2 separate regions of the Homo sapiens genome follow, and region 2 is linked to region 1. A link means that fine-mapping ties the variant in region 1 to the expression of a gene that starts in the linked region. Tissue or cell type: whole blood. Region 1 holds a variant in brackets; the other region holds the start of a gene. All regions are shown on one strand. Distances are between the middles of the regions.

Region 1 (8,101 bases):
GTGTTGCCTTTTCACAGCCCTGCCTTGCTCACCCCACCCTTGGGCAGGACAGCCCAGCACCCGCCTCAGACCACTTGTTCATCATCTATATATACACGATTTGCAGCACTCGAGGGAGATTTAGTATTGTCAGACCCACCACTTTGAGAAGAAATGGGTAGGGGGCAGTTAGGGCAGGGACCTGGCATTCGTAAGTGAGGCCACTAAAAAGAAGCAAGATGGCTTCAGGGAATTAAGATGGGATCTTCCCTATTCAAGCCACAAGCCAAAGGCCAGAGCTCACAGTTTTCACTGTATTCTGAAATGGAAAGCTGTCAAGAACTTAGAACAATACCTTCCACCTCACTTCCAAATCCTCACCCTTCCCAACACGATGTTTACTAAAACCTCAGAGATACATTTCATGTCTCAGTTCCCTAGCTGGTTTTCTGAGTTTCTTAAATGTGGGTTTTAGTTTCATTTATACATTTGGGATTCCTCTAAACCAAGATTTTCTTTGTAGGTTACTTTTTTTCATAATGCTCTAAAAATTCAAAACCCCTATCAGAGGTCTCAGCTGCTGAACATACACATTAGGTCAGAGACAGATACACGGCATGCCTTTCTCCCATTCTGGGCTGAGGCTCCTGGAGCTCAGCCTCTTTTCTCCCTCCCATGTCTCAGCATCTCCTACAACTCTCAGTCTCATCCAGCGTGAGCACTGGGGAGCTATTCAATGAGTCTGACACGTTAGAGCCCAAGGTTTTAGAACAAGTAGCACCCACCAGCTTCTAGAATGAAGCCACTGCTCCTGTCGGGCCTAATGCTGAAGATCCCAACACTTACTTCTGTCAAAACATTATCACAAATGAAACCCACAACTTCGTGGTATATAACCAGCTTCACAGAACATGCAGTATACCCAGTAGTTTATGTGACAAAGGAAAAAGTGGTTCCTCTTCAGAAATGTCCCTTTCACAGCCTTACCTTAGTGTTTTCATACTTCTCAGAGGAAGGATGATAAGGTGGAAAAGACCAGCTATACGGAGAATCATCGGTATGGTTAGAAGATATCCCTTGGAAAAAAAAAAAGGTTGTTAAAACATGATGAGTCTTTCAACACCCCACTCCCCATAATTAAAACTCTGTAAACAAATGGGCAAGTGGAACCTCCCTTCTTTGGGGCTCAGTTTCCTCATCTACAAAAGGTCCCCTCTAAAGCCAAACTCTCTAGTTTCTATTTGAGAACTAAGCATCTGACTTCCTGGTCCCTAAGCCCTGATGATTTGTGCTAGGCTCTGTGGAAGGGACCCACAAGGACAAGATCAGTCAGCTCCTTAGAGCCCATGCTGAAACCTATCTCTCACCCTATGAAGGAGGCAGCAGAGGCATCAGCACCATCAGGGAGCCGATGGGGGCAGGAGAGGGAGGCTCAGGGAAGGTATGTGACTTACCTATGCTAACCAGATATTAGATAAGGGAGCCAGGACTCAAAACCTTGTTTTAGAATTCCAAGTTCAAGTGCTCATTCATGAAGCAGAAACCCACCCTTAAGCTTAGTAGTTTATAGTTTATTTGTGAAGACAGTATAACAGCACTGGAAACCAAGGAAGGACTTCCAGCTTTCAAAAGCATCGAAGTGCCAAGTGGGGGATCCTCCAAGCACAGAGGTTATTGTGAGTCAGGTGAGGACTGGCAGGGAGGACTTCTAGGAGCCAGTGAGGCCTGTGAGGGATCTGAAGGGAAGTGCTGCCTATAGTGGTTAGCTGGGAGTGGAGGGGATCACAGGCAGAACCTCGTGAGAAAGCATCAGCAGCAGTCACACAGTGGGACTCCCATAGGGAGTACCAGAAGAGACAGGAATGGAGAGAAAGAGGGCAGCGGGTGGAGGGCCTATGAAGACAGCAAGCACTGTGGAAAGAGCACACAGGAAGCCAACAACCACAGGTCCAAATCCTGATGCTGCCTCTTAGCATCCTTGCAACCTCTGGCAAGCTACTTGACTCCCATGAGCCTTCATGTCTTCCTTGGGAAATGATGATGATGATAAAAACCCACCTTGCTTGCTGTTGGGAGGATTAAAGGAGTGGCCAGCATGGTAAACGGTACATACCTGGCACACAGTGGTGGCTACTGTCATCTTGAAGCAGGCCCAATGCTAACAGAAAAAGGTCTTGAGAACAAAGATTCAGCTGAAAAATGTGTTCCCACAAGGGCTGCAGGGAAAGGTTTATTCTCTGAGAAGGACATGGTGCTTAGAGCCTGGTGCCAAAATCCAATCATCAGGAGGGAGGAGGTCAAGCAACATCACTCAGTCCTTGCCTGGTTTCCCCTCCCAAAGCACAATCTCCTCCCTCTGCTGTGTTTCCTCCTCTCTCCAAAATCATCACTTCCCTCCAGCTGCATTTGGGCAAGGGGTATGGTAATGAGAACACCAAACTGCAGAAAGTTCTCCTGACACTGGACTTTTGGCTGTGCAATATGATTCCTGACAGGTTCACCTCTGAAACTGGCCTGACTTAGTAGAGCTGAATGTCACTCTCAACCTGGGCTGGCCAGCTGAGCTCCTGCAGAAGGCTGCCAAGCCTGCCGGTGTAACCACTGAGCAAAGGGAAAGAGACTGAAAACATTCGTCATTCCCAAATGATAAGCATTATTGTCCCTATGGTGCTCTTGTCTTCCAATACTTTTTTCTCCATTTTTTTTCTCAAATACTCATGCATTACTTCTATAAATAAAAAGTTTTAAAGTTTGTTTGCTTTTCACTATCCCCATATTGGCATTAAAGAGAGCCAGTTTATCAGGCAGCATTTGAGGTAAGGAATGTCCGTCTCTGGGACCCTATAGATCCTGGGTACCAGATTACACTCATCTTTCTGACTTAATTTCCAGAGTGGATAGCAGCCCCTACCTAAGCACAGCCCCCTCATTGGGCAATAAGTCAGCAACAGCAATGCTGGCCACACGGGAGGCCCTCAGGTGTCCTCACCCCACCCCTAGGTTTACTGACAGGTACCCTGCAGGGGAGAGGGTGGGGCCCTGAGCTGGACTCCACCCAACACTGCCACCTCCCCAGCCTGTGTCCTCCCTACCACCCGAGGAGCTGAAAGACCCAACAGCACACCCTCAGTGGTTTCTGAAAGGAAGCAAAGCTCTTTCTACCCTTTTTCACTTTGGGTGAAAACGTGGCTGGGTTGACAAGTCAGTTTTTTAGAAAGGAAGCACTGACTAGCGAGGGACTCGCCCAGCCAGAAGAGGGCTCTGCAAAGACAGCCCCATCCCCAGGATGGGAATGCTGGATTCAGACACCACAAACCAAGAGAACCCAGACTCTGGACATGGAGCAGTACCAGGGTGAAAGACTTTTCCCACCGACATGGTCACATAGCCATTCTCCTTGAAGTACTGGGGGATGGTGGAGAAGTTTCCAGCGTGCACCCTCCAGTAGGAGTTGAAGTCGTACAGGCGGGTGGTGTCAGGTCTCCTGCCAGTGAGGAAAGAAACGCGGCTCGGGGCGCACACTGCTTGCTGTTAGGGAGCAGAAGCAGAGGTAAGCATCGCCACAGCAAAACATGTCTGCCATCTCTTAGGTAACCAAGCAACCGCCCTCCCGAGGCTCCTAGCAAACAGCTTGGTAGCTGAGTCATGCAGAGCTCAAACCAGACACTGGGATTTGGGTGTCACCTAGGCAACAGACTGCTTCCGGGAGAGAAAAGGGAAGCAATCAGCCCCTGAAACCAGCAGATGCTTATCTCCTCCTACGCAATGGCCTCCCCAGGCACACAGAGCGGCCAGTGTTGCTGGGGGCAGAGCCATGAGGGGGTTCAGGGAGCAGGGCCACCCTGGCTAGCTCTCACCTGAGGCCCAG[C/T]CTGCAGACCTGTGGGTGCCCTTCTGCAGCACCCCTTCCTTCTGAGCACCAGGCAAGCGCCCGTTCTGGGAGAAAGCTGGCCAGGGCTGCCATGAACACATCAGGGCCAGGGCGCACCTTGCACCCAAGGAGAAGGCCACCCTTGAAGGTCAAGCTTTCCCATGAGTGGAAAACCAGATTTTCTCCACTACCATTTTCCAGACTATGCTTCCCTCTAACAAGATGTCCCGCACAATCTGTGCCATCTGACAATAGCTGAAGCTCCCCGCCCCCAACCCTCAGTGCACGAAGCAGCACACACCCACAGCTAGAGGTTCCCAGACATACCTGCGCAAAGGCATTCTGGAAGAGGAGGCTGTGGGATGCCAGTTGGTCAATATTTGGGGACCTCACCAGCTTATCCCCATAACAGCCCAGGGAGGGGCGCAGGTCATCCACGATGATGAGAAGAACGTTCAGAGCATCTACACAGGAGGGAGGGGCTTTGGTGAGGTAACCTGCACTGACACTGAACCCTCCCTCATGGTAGGTGCTAGGTTACTAAGAGGCCCAAGGCTGGACCCTGCACCTTAACAGCCTAGCCAGGGAGGGCGCTGTGCCTCAGCAAGGGTGGGAGTGGGGCTCGAGGAGGAAGCCTGAGTCCTGGGTGGCAGGGTTAGGCTTTGGTCATGGCCTCCAACCTGGGTGAGGAAGCGAGATAGTGAGTGAAAGATGGTGGAAAGGAAAGATGAATTTAGGAAAAAAAGAGAATGATGTATGCAGGAAAGGACAGATGGTTGGATGGAGGAAGATAAGGAGGAAAAGATGAATAGCTGAAGGGAAGAAAGGATGGAGAGAAGGAGGGGAGAAGAGAGAGAAATATGAATGGATAGAAGGTAAAAGGGACGGATGGACCAATGGAGGGAGGAAAGGAGGGGGAAAGATGGATGGATAGAGATGGGAAAGATGGGGGGAAAGAGGAAGGGAAGCACGGAGGGATAGGAGATGGATGGATGAATAGATGGAAAGAGGGAAGGGAGGGATGAAGGGACGGTAGGAAGGAGTGAAAAATGGAGGGAGGGAACGAATGATGGATGAAAGAAGGAATGGTAGGAGAGAGGAAGGGTAAAAAGAATGGATATAAACAAAGAAGGAAGGAAAGAAGGAAGGAGGAAGGAAGGGAGGGAGGAAGGGAGAAGAGATGGCAGGGAGGGCGTGGGCGGCACCTGTGGTCGAGTTGGCCTGCGTTTCGGATCCGAGGGCGACGCAGACGGAGCTCAGAACCAGACCCAGCCAGAGAAGGCCTCGGCCGGTCCGGGGTGGCGGCATTTCGGCTTCGACGCGGCCGCTTCAGAGCGGCGGGGACAGGCTGCAGCAGGTGGCGCAGTTAGCAGCCGCCGCCGCAGCCACAGAGACCTCCTCGTCGGGAACCCATGAAGACTGCGCAACACAGCCGCCGCCCGGGCCCGCAGGCCCGGGCGCTGGCCGCAGCGCGAGTGCGTCCGTGCGACTCTTCCCTGCGTCCCTCCCCTCCGGGGCGGGTTCTAGAGGTGCGCGTCATCCTGCAGCAATAGGCGTGGCCGAGAGACAGGCGCAGAGCGGGGGCGGGCCAGTTGCCTTGCAAGCTTCGCAGACCCAGCGGCCCGCAGGCCCCTAGGTGTAGAACTGCTAGGGGTATAGCGATTCAGCCACTGCCCTTAACAACTAGCAGTTACCCGTCTTTTTGCCTTTGCTTGTGCTATGCCTTTCACCTGGAAGCCCTGCCCTTCCTTCTTTTTATAAAAGACACACTTCTTGTAAGCCAGCCTCAATGCCATTCTCCTTCCATGAGGCCTTTTGAGAAAGTCCCTTCCTCCATCTAAAGGGACTCCCTTTCCTATTCATTTCTTCAACTAATTCTTATTAAGTATCGCAAATATGTATACCAGGCGCTGTTGGTGGCACTGGGGCTCTATGTCCCTGCTTTGGTGGAGCTTAAAACAATAAAAAAATATAGAGAGTGTCGGTGGGCATACCCGGTCTGGAGAAAAATAAAGCGTGGGTGCGGGGCATGCTTGTTATTTTCTATGGGGTGGCCAGGCAGGGCCTCACTAGTGAAGTGGCATTTGAACAAAATTTTGAAGCAAGTGAGGGAGCAAGCCGCATTGAGGTCTGCAAGAAGGGTGCGCCAAACAGAGAGAGCAGCAATTGTGGGGAGATGGAATCCTAGCCCTACACTGTACTGTACTGAATACTATTATACCGTCCTAATACTGCAAACACAGTTTGATTTTCAACTTTGAGAATCAATCTATAACAAAGCCCAGATGACTTAATTATGACTAAACAACAATGGACAATGGGAAGGTACAAATACAGCTGTGATGGTGCTGTGGTGCACTGCTCAGATCTCCCTTCAACACCAAAAATTTTATTTCCCTAGCTGGCTTGAGAGCTGTTAGCTGTCGTTAGCCCTCATCAGAAATTGTCTTAGAAAAAGATAGGTACCTCAGCCAAGGTCACCCCTGTTCTCAGGAAGCCCACATCAGTGATTCAACTTGAAGGTACAAAGGTGCAGCCCCTTACCCCAACTTGGGACATCTCTGAAAGGCCATTTCAGCTTCAGAGCTCCCTGTGGGGTTAACTGAAGCCTTTTTTGAGACTGCCCACTTTCTCTGTCTGTTGAATTTTGATTTCTTCCCTCCCCTCCCCTTCTACAGGTGTTGATCCTAAGAGTACTCCCTAAGAAACTTCCTGCACATTACTCTACATCTTAGTCAGCTTCCTTGGGAACCTGGCCTGCAGCAACAGTTGACAAAAAGCTGGGAGGAGGAAGGGAGATGGCAGGAAATGTAGGCACATTAATTTAGGGTTAGCAATTTAGGATTGTCTCCTTTGCCCCAGCCTATCGCAAAAAAATAATAATAATAATAATAATAAATCAATAGTCGCTGTCCCCAGTTCATAGAAAGAGAAATACAGATTTAGGGATATTACTTAAAGATACAAAAGTAAACAATAGAAAACTTAAAAATGGCAATAAATCTATATAGTAAAAGGAGAAGGGAAAATGGCAGGGAGAGATGAAACAAAATTTGTCATGAGTTGATAACCAATGAAGTTCATTGATGAACACCTGGGGTTTATTATACTATTTTCTGTAATCTTGTATAGGTTTGATCAATTTCCAAAATCCAAGGTTAAAAATATGTACATAAAAAGAGGAATGGATAAGTGATCTCATCTATCATAGGAAGAAGTCAGCAATGTCTAAAGTTGAAAACATTAGAAAGTTGATATAGAAATAGCATAGTATTTAGAAAGACAGGGACAATCTACTAGAAGAAATGAAAGTAGAAACATTTAAAATGAGAACAGAAGAGGGAAGGTGCAGGGCAGAGGGCCTTTGCTTTGTATGGTATGTCTTTTGGTCCTTTTTGACTTAGGTGTTAGTGTCCTCCCCCCAAAAATTGTATGTTGGAGTCCTAACACCCAGTACCTCAGAATGTGATCTTATTTGGAAACAGGGTCTTTAACAGGGTAATCAAGTTAAAAGGAGGTAATTGGGTTGGGCCCTAATCCAATATGACTGGGGTCCTTATCAAAAGAAAAAATTTGGACACAGACACAAACACATAGAGAGAAGACATCCATGTGAAGACAATGGATTGAAGTGATGCATCTACAAGCCAGTGGATGCCAATGATTGCCAGCAAACCACAAGAAGCTAGGAAGAGGCAAGGAAGCATTCTTCTTCTATAGGTTTCAGGGGGTGCATGGTCCTGCTGGCACCTTGATTTAAGACTTCTGGCCTCCAAAACTGTAAGACAATGCATTTCTGTTGTTCTAAGCCATGTAATTTGTAGTACTTTGTTACAGCAGCCCTAGAAAACTAACACTACCTATAAACAATTCAAAATTTAACAAGATTGATTGTCTCAGCTGGGATAGAAAATTATATATGCCACTTGGCACAATTGTGTGTGTTTGTTTTTGTTGTTTGTTTGCTCTGGTGTAAGCTCGAGGTTTTGCTGGGGCTCATAGCAGCAGAAGGACAAGAGTGGGAGCAAGTGGAGAGAGCCAGTAAGAGAGCAGTTCAGGTGGCTGACAGTGGTTAAGAAGACTGGTGGACTGGGGACAAACAAAGATCTAGGAGATGGGTGAGGATATAGAGAGGCAGCAAGGGTGTGAGAGTACTGGTTTTAGTCCCAGAATGAGACCCTGAAATTTAAGATTTCTGAGGTAAAACAGATCCTGGTGATTTAAAGGTCAAGGATGTGGCCTTGAAGCTGGGAG
Region 2 (8,101 bases), 130 kb after region 1:
TTTGCCTACTCTAAGAACAGGGCTCTTTCACTGTTAGGAAGCCTCAGGCATTCAAGGAAGGACTTGTTTGTGGGTCCGGTACATCTGTTTCGGCATGTCTTAACCTGCATAACTAAAAAGCAATTATGAAAAGAAGTTCATGATCAACCAGTTCAGTGCCAGATGGAAATAGGTAGAGTGGGTCAGCTGGCAGCCCTGTACATCTGAGTGTTGACACTTGTGAATCATTCTCTGTCACTATAGTTTCCAGAGCCTTGCCAACGCAGCAGTGGGTTCAGACTTACCAAGATCCAAAAGGCTGGAAAGGGGATCTGGAGCCATGACCCATGCCTTGGGACCCACCAAACCATGACAGTGACTATTTCTATGACAAAGACATGCTCTTCAAAGTAAATATAGCCATATTCTGCCTTAGTGCCATGTTCTCTCCCATCTCTCCAAAGCAATGGCTGCACTCTGAAGGTGGGAAGAGTGTGAGAAGAAAGAGAACCAGGCCACAGACCACCAGGAAAGCAGTGATTGAAAGCAGCAGCTCTAGATTTATCTTATAGGCTCTGGAGAGTTATTCAGTTATTTACTCCACAAATATTTATTGAGCCAGGTACTATTCCAAGTATGCAGGCTACGATACTGACACAGTCACGGCCTTGACCCCATGGAGCTTAAAGTTTAGTGGGGGAGGCAGGTATTAATCAAATAAGCATCCAGACAGACACAAGGGTACAAATATGCACTATGATGGAGGAGTAGTAAATACTACAGGAACTGTAGAAACAGGGAGCAGTAAATCTGGTCAGGGAAGTCAGGAATGCTTCCCTTAGCAAGTGCCAAGTGAGGATAAATAGGAGTTCACTAGGTCTGGAGGAGAGGAAAAGAGAGGGAAACATTCCTGGTAAAGAGAACAGTGTGTGACAAGGTCCTGGGGTAGGAGGGAGATGTTGAATTGGTTCAAAAATAGAGGCAGGGAGCAAAGCAGTAGCATCAAGGTTTGAGTCCCCAGCATAAGGTAACTTCCTGTGTACACCCCTCAGTTTTCTTTCTCCTATAGAGAAGGCCTTCCTCAGCATGGAAGGAGACTAAAGCACACTGTCAAAAACTAGGAGTGCTCAGGAGAGGTGAAACACTACCAGCTAAAAAAACAAATCTGATTTACCAATAATACCTGGCCAATGTCCTCTTGAAATATCTGTAAAATTAAGGAACTCACTACCTCTGGCAACAATGAATCAGGAAAATGGCACAGTATAAAAGACCTTTAAACTTTTCAGGTAGAAATACATTTTAATGCAGGTAGAATTAAGAGATTGATGAATATGTTGAGAATTACTATAAATCTGCTTAGATACCAGGTATTTCACTGTAATTTCATATACTAATTTTTTTGGGGGGAAAAGGGCTAAAGGAAAAAACGGTTAAAGGTAGTATCAGTGCAGCACTATTTTGCTTTGGCAACTCCGTTAGCCTGTTTGATCACTTAAGGCAGTTTCTTGAGGCTTCTGAATTCTCTGTCACCTTGCAAACAAGTCACTGTAGCTTTCTATTTGTAAGGCACTTTGTAATCAATCCTTAATTGGCCTCCCTACCCCACTGAGAGATTATACTCATTCTACAGATAAAACAATAGATAAGTGAGTTGCCCAAGGGCACAAAACAATTCAGTTTTTACTTAACTTTCTTATCACCATCTCCAAATAGAAGACATACAGGGCTTGTCCAGCCACAGCACCAACCCTACTACCCTGCAGACCAATCTTAACCCCCTGATGCAGCAGAGGAAGGGACTGCAGTTAGTTCTGTTACCTCCTCTATGCCTTCGAAGCCAACAATGATAATGTCTGCACCGTGTTAGAGACACTGGCACTCCTAACCAGAACATGAACTCAAAGTGGAATAAGAGCACATACAAAGTCACAATGACTCACAAGTTAAAATGTCACCATCCCTAGGGAGACTGCACCCTCAACATACAAATACTCCCCTAAAACTTCCTTTCATCCTCAACAAGCAGCCAAGGCATAGGTCCCCAGAGTTGGCCCCCGCAGTACAGCACTGCACAGTACTGTAAGGCATCTTAAGTGTACAAGCCCTTCTTCACCCCATGCTGAGACCGCCAGCATCTAAAGCACCTAACATAGGTTACAGCACACAAATATTTACTGAGCACGTCTTCCCAACTGGCAAATAAGGGAAACGGATACTCCTTTCGGAGAGTAGTGCATTTAAGAGATCAGTTAGGCCAACTCCTCATTTTACAGAAGGGCCAAAGAAGGGCAGAGAATCACCCAGTTACATATGGCCTCGTCTCCAATCCAAGTCTTTGGGCTCAGTTTAGTTCCACAAACATTTTATATGTGCCTACTATGTGCCAGATACGGTGGGTGGGAGGCGCTGGGGACACTGAGATGAGCAGGAGATGGTCTCAGCTTCAGGGAGCTCACAGCCTGGGGTAAAGAACAGTTACAAAACAGTCGGGCAAGTGCAAGGACAGGCGCTTGAGTGCTTAGCCAGTGTTTTCTCCACACTGTCCACTGGGTGTTCCCCATCTGGAAAAGAAGGACAGCAATATCTACTTCCTGCAAATAAACTTGTAGTGAAGACTGATGAGAAAATGAGTATGGAAAATGATCAGGCTCACCCAGAAATGCATTATATAAGGTATTGCCATACCCCGACACTGACTCCAAGGATTCAACAGTGTTTCAGGTATCCGTTCAACAAAGAAGCAAACAAGAGAGGGATGGGCATAAACCCAAGGAAAACCCCAAGGACTGCGAGGAACTGGAGGAAACAGCTGGGGTGGGGGTAGGGGTGTTGGGTCGAGTGAGACGGCCCTGACGCGGAGAATGGAGGGCCCGCAGCGGCGCAGAAGAGGATGGAACCGAGACGAAGAAGTTGGGACACCAATGAGGGACAGCAAGCAGAAAAGAATGGGGTTCCCTTGGGGCAGGACGGGGCTCGCGGCCGGGCCCTTCCGGCCGTGGCCGGGCAGGGGCTGAAAGCACCGGGCACGGGAGGAGGAAGCGGGCGGGCGCCGAGGCCGACTGTTTTGCCTGGGGACCGCTTGCACCCGCAGGGAGGCTCGGGCAGGCGCCCGGGTCCTCGGGCTGCAGCATCTCGCCCGCCGTGCCTCCCCGGAGCCGAACACCAGCCCGCGCCCGAGCCCGCAGCGCGGACTCCCGGGGGCGCCAACGACGCCGCCTCACCTCGGGTTGAAGTCCTGGAAGAGGCCCCTCAGGTTCATGGCGGAGAACTTCACCGCGGCGTCCTCCTCCTCCTCCCCCGCACCCCGTGCTGCACAGCCTGCGCCTTACAGCGGGTTCATGGCGCCAGCGCCAGCCGCGTCCACGCTGCTGCTCCCGCTACTGCTGCCGTCCCCGCTGCCGTCGCCGTCGCCGTCGCCGCCGCCGCCGCCGCCGCCGCCGCCGCCGCCGCCGCCGCCGCCCGGAGAAACCTGAGCCACCGCCCCCTGCCCCTCCTTCCGGGCTTCCGTACGAGGGCCGCGCATGCGTCCGGAGCCCCGCCCAGAGCGCTCCTCGCTGGGAGGTCCCCATCCTTGTGTCCGCACGCGACCGGCGGAGGAGATGGCAGGGGGATGGAGGCTGGGAGTGAGCAGGGCCCCGAGGAAGGGGATGCTGACGGGCTGAAGGCCTGCAGGGAGGGAGCGCGCCGCCCGGGAGTCTGGCGGGCAGATCTTGGCAGACACCTGTCACCTTGGCCCGCGCTACCTTCTGGAGATTTTCCCCAGTGACGACTGAGCCCTGGGAGTAGTGACAATGAGTGAGACGTTGCATTTTTGGCGATGTCATCCCAGGCTTCACCTGTCACATCTGTCAACGACTCCAAAGTTTGGGTCCCAACTTCCCTTCCAATTCCCAAGCCAGCGTGTCCAGATATGCTGGCTATTCCCTACTCAAGTTACCTAGCACCAAAGTCACTTCCCGTGCCAACCGCCTTCCCCTCCTGGGTTCCCTTTTTCCCTTAGCAGCAGGCCTATTCGTACGCAGGGGGGTATTCAAGCAGGAGACGTGGAAATCATCCTCATTTTTCTAACCCAGTTCAGAGCCTCCTTGGATCCTGTCTAAACTTTGTGGTCACTTCACACCTGACCTCTGCCTCCACTCCAGGCTGCCCTACTTACAAGTACCAGGTTCATCTTCCTTGGGCAAGTCAACATCTTTGAGTCTCAGTTTTTCTCCTCCGCAGAATGGAAATGATAAAAACCTCTTTTCTAAGCGTGTTAGGAAGATTCAGTGAGATCGTGTGCATAACACACTGCCTGGTACATGCTAGGTGTACAAAGAATGCTGTTGCTATCTGGTACTCTTTCAGGTGTCAACCTCCTCAAGGATTTTGTTTGCTTTTGGAATCCAAGAGCAGGACAAGCTCATAGCAGGTGACCTAGTTTACCATCTTCACTTTGGGCAGATTTAAGTTTTCATGAGCACAACAATGCCTTAAACATTAGTCTACTATCATTATGGATAATAGTCATCCTTTGTTGCAATAGCAGAGTTTCACAAATGACAATTTTATACTGTTTAGCCCCAAGGGCAGCTTGAGAGAATCACAATTGCGATAGTCATACTTAGTCTTGATGTATCACCTTTCTTCTGAGAACGTAAAAACATATCATAAGTGGTAATTAAGCTTCCCAACACCCACTGGGAAATGGATATTATTATATGAGCTGATTTTAAGGTTGAGTAATCCAAATCAAGTTTTCATCTGCTGAAGCACCAGGACCCTGTCCCAGACTTTTTCACCCATCTTCCTTTCCCATCCTCTGGGTAAAGTCCAATGTGTAGCCCAGAGGAGGTTCTCAATGAACACTCAAATACAGACGAGGAATTAAGGCGCAGAGAAGCTTGTATAACAGGCCCTGAGCGAGCCAGCAAGTAAGGGTGAAGGAGCACAGATGAAACTCAGGGTCTAGCTGAACCTGCAGCCCATACTGTTAGAAAGAGGTGCTTGCCAGTGGTCAGATTGGACAGCACCATCTTCATTACCAGTGACCGTGCCCCAAGCAGGCATGAGAAGATGGTCTGCCAGTTCAGACACTTGAATAACAGGCATCACTGCCCTTTCAAGAGCTTCATAGATAGAGACCAGGCAGGCTCCTCAGAGTCCAGAATCTTGAGGGCAGACGCTACTTTAATGAGATCCCAGGGAGTCTGGGAGCTGAACCACTGCTCTGCAGGCCCACAAGTTCAATTTTAGCAGTTCTTCCAGAGTTGACCAGGCCCTGGAAGCTATCTAGCAAAGGCAACAGGACACTGATGCACAAATTACTTGTCAGTGTGTTCTTTTGCTCTGACAAGGTAAATTGCCAAGAGGAACATATGAACCTGTCTGTGAGGAAATACAGGAAGAACTGGACTTTCCCAAGGCTTCACATCCCCAGTCTTCAAGAGGTGGATTACCTGGACTGATTCTGGAAGCCCAACCCTTTATGCTACTGGTGCTCTCATGGGGAAAAAAAAGCCAGAAACCAGATGGCCATCTGGTCCTCTCTCCAGCAAGTGCAAAAGACCCTACTGACAACCTGCTGCTCACTTCAGAGCCCTCACTCAGTGTCCCACCCTAGATGGAGGTCCAAAGCCTCAATGACCTGTGTAGACAGACCCACAAGTGATCCTGACATTAAAGAAAGACCCTGGGTCATATGCAGGCACCAGGAGTGCTGGGAAGCTTAATTACCACTTATTAAATGTTTCTACATTCTCAGAAGAAAGGTGATACATCAAGGCTAAGTATGACTAGTGGAGAAGATGACACCCACATCTTCTCCACTAGCAGAGTTTGACTTTATCTTTTCCTTGACTTGCCAAAAAATTCCAGGGCTATCTTGCTAGGGGCTCCCAACATTCTTCACTCAAAGGAAAGAAATGGCTCTGGATTGAAAAAGTATGACCCCCAAATAAGCCAGACAGCATATTCTTGGTGACTTTGGGGTGGGCTTAGGTTACAGTGTTCCAGAAGAATCAGTGTATATCTGACCATGGTTTTAAGGACTAACTTGGATTTGTACCACCCTTCTGATAAGCTGGTGGCTTGTCCAATTCAATATTCACATTGGCTTCAATGTGGTGATATAGGATGCCTCTCCTCTGAAGAGCAAGGCACTGGTGAAGAGAATCCTGGTGAATTTAGACACTTGGACTGGGGAGACCTGGCATAGGGGAAGAAAATGGCCGTGGAACCGCCCTCCACACACCACCAAGGCTCCTTCCCTGGCTGCAGCAGTAGAATGGAGAGAGTGTGGAATTAGTAGATTTGAACTCAACACCAGTTTCACCCTTGCTCCAGTGGAGGGAGGGCCAGCTGGGATCCAGTCCCGTGCAAGGCCTATGGGACTATAAAGAGCTTCTCGGAGGTCAGATTGACAAGTTCTTTAGCCAGGAAACATGGAGGTGCCAGCCTGCAAGGCTTTCTTAGCCTGGAATTCCTCACCCTAGGTTCCCTAAAGTCCACACTTTGAATGCCACCAATTAGAGAATTGCTGAAGATGCTGGGAATTAGTCCACCTGCAGAATGCAATCTCCTGCTTCCTGACAGAACCCTTTGTTTCAGGCAACTTTAGCCTAACTTGGATACACATCTGAGATCTCCCTGGGAGGTGGGTGGGTCTGGAGTCTAGACAGGGATTTGATTAAATACGGGGCTAGATTTAGGGGCTTGGAGAACTGGAGGAGGAGATTGCAGGGAGGCAACTGAAGGGACCACAGAGGTAGTAGCTGTAGTTCTGCTTGGACTTGCAGCAACCCCTATGGCCTTCCAGAGCCCAGAAGGAGCCACCTCCTCAGGGAGTCTTCCCTCAGGTAGGCAAATTACAGTTACTGAGAGAGAAGAGGGAGGGAGGACAGTCCCAAGGCCCCAGTGGACCTCCTGTCACCCAGGGTAGCCCTGGGAGTGGGTGGTTTATCATCCCTCATGGAGCAAGCTTTCTGCTAAAGGAAGCAGGGGCCATTTCCTGTTGGAAGGCAGAATGGGGAGCCTTTGCCTGGGCCAGCAAACCACCACGGTATCCCTGTGCTTCTCCTCTGGACCTCTCCTGATGCCAGGGTTTCCAGGAAGCCTTCCCGGCTGTGCCACACTCCTCCAGTGTGCTGTGTATGCAAAGCCCAGGTCAAGTGTGTGTGGCCAAGCACACGGGGCAGACAAAAAGGCCCATGCTTGCCAAAGGTCACCAACCAGCTGCCCACATGATTCCTTTTTCTCCTTGTTCCCAACCTGCTCTCATTCCTGAATCTCCACTCAATGCTTGTCTTTCTCCCTTTCTGTTTCCACACTGTATTTCTGACACATTCCTCTGGGGCCCTCTGCCCTAACTAATCAAATGTGCTCTTCCTCATCTTGCCTTCCCCTAATGGATCCTTTCATCTTGGGTAGCCTGTAACCTTCACTCCTTTAGTTGCATTCATCTGACATATGTCTTCCAGAGTGTCTGCTTTGTGCCGGGCACTGTGGAAGGCACTGGGAACACACAGATATGAATAATGAAAACACAGCATTGTGCACGATAAGCATTGGGGATGAGGGAACCGCTGAGCTGAAAAAATAACATTGTAAGGTAGGAAGAGAGGAAATGAGGTTCCAGGCAGAGTAAACAACAGTTGTAAAAACACAGAAGTCAGTGAATGGAGGCAGGTGCACCATTTTGGAGAACAATATTGTCTGCAACCATCCTCCCTTCCCTTCCCACCACCCCACTCTGCCTACAGGCAGCTGTGCGTGTGCTCTCAGCTCTCTGTGCTTGGAGGAGTCAGTTTTGGAGTCCCATGATGCTTCCCACTATGCCCCTGTATTCTTGGATCCTGGCATGCAGTAGGTGCTCAGGCAATGGTCATGAAATGAATGCTGATGTTGGACAGTCACAGGGCACAAACAAAAAAGCAGTTCTTCCTCATCCCTTGCCTCAAACCAGGCAACTTGTGTCTGCAGGAAAAATGACCCTTTCTTTCCAAGTTTCTAATAGCTGCAGACATTATGTGGGTACCCACACTCCCACTTTCCTACAAATCATTGACATGTTGAGGTTTTTTGTGTCTTATTATAAAACAACTTATACCATGCTTGTACAGTTCTAAGATGTGAGATGAAC

The links. PIP is the estimated chance that this variant, and not a neighbour inherited with it, causes the effect.
Region 2: it holds the start of TMEM185A, and the variant in region 1 is fine-mapped to the expression of TMEM185A in whole blood (TOPMed, PIP above 0.99).

What each region holds. Positions count from the first base shown.
Region 1 is chrX:149,499,983-149,508,083 of GRCh38, forward strand. It overlaps IDS (iduronate 2-sulfatase), which reads right to left and starts at 5,324. Exons shown (of 9, transcript NM_000202.8): 1 at 5,053-5,324; 2 at 4,175-4,311; 3 at 3,330-3,507; 4 at 967-1,055. The coding sequence starts at 5,155. RefSeq lists enhancers at 3,903-4,451, 4,575-5,076, 5,069-5,228 and a silencer at 4,413-4,512. The variant C/T (reference allele first, on the strand shown) is at 3,848.
Region 2 is chrX:149,628,340-149,636,440 of GRCh38, forward strand. TMEM185A (transmembrane protein 185A) reads right to left here and starts at 3,453. Exons shown (of 7, transcript NM_032508.4): 1 at 3,204-3,453. The coding sequence starts at 3,241. RefSeq lists silencers at 2,946-2,995, 3,006-3,415.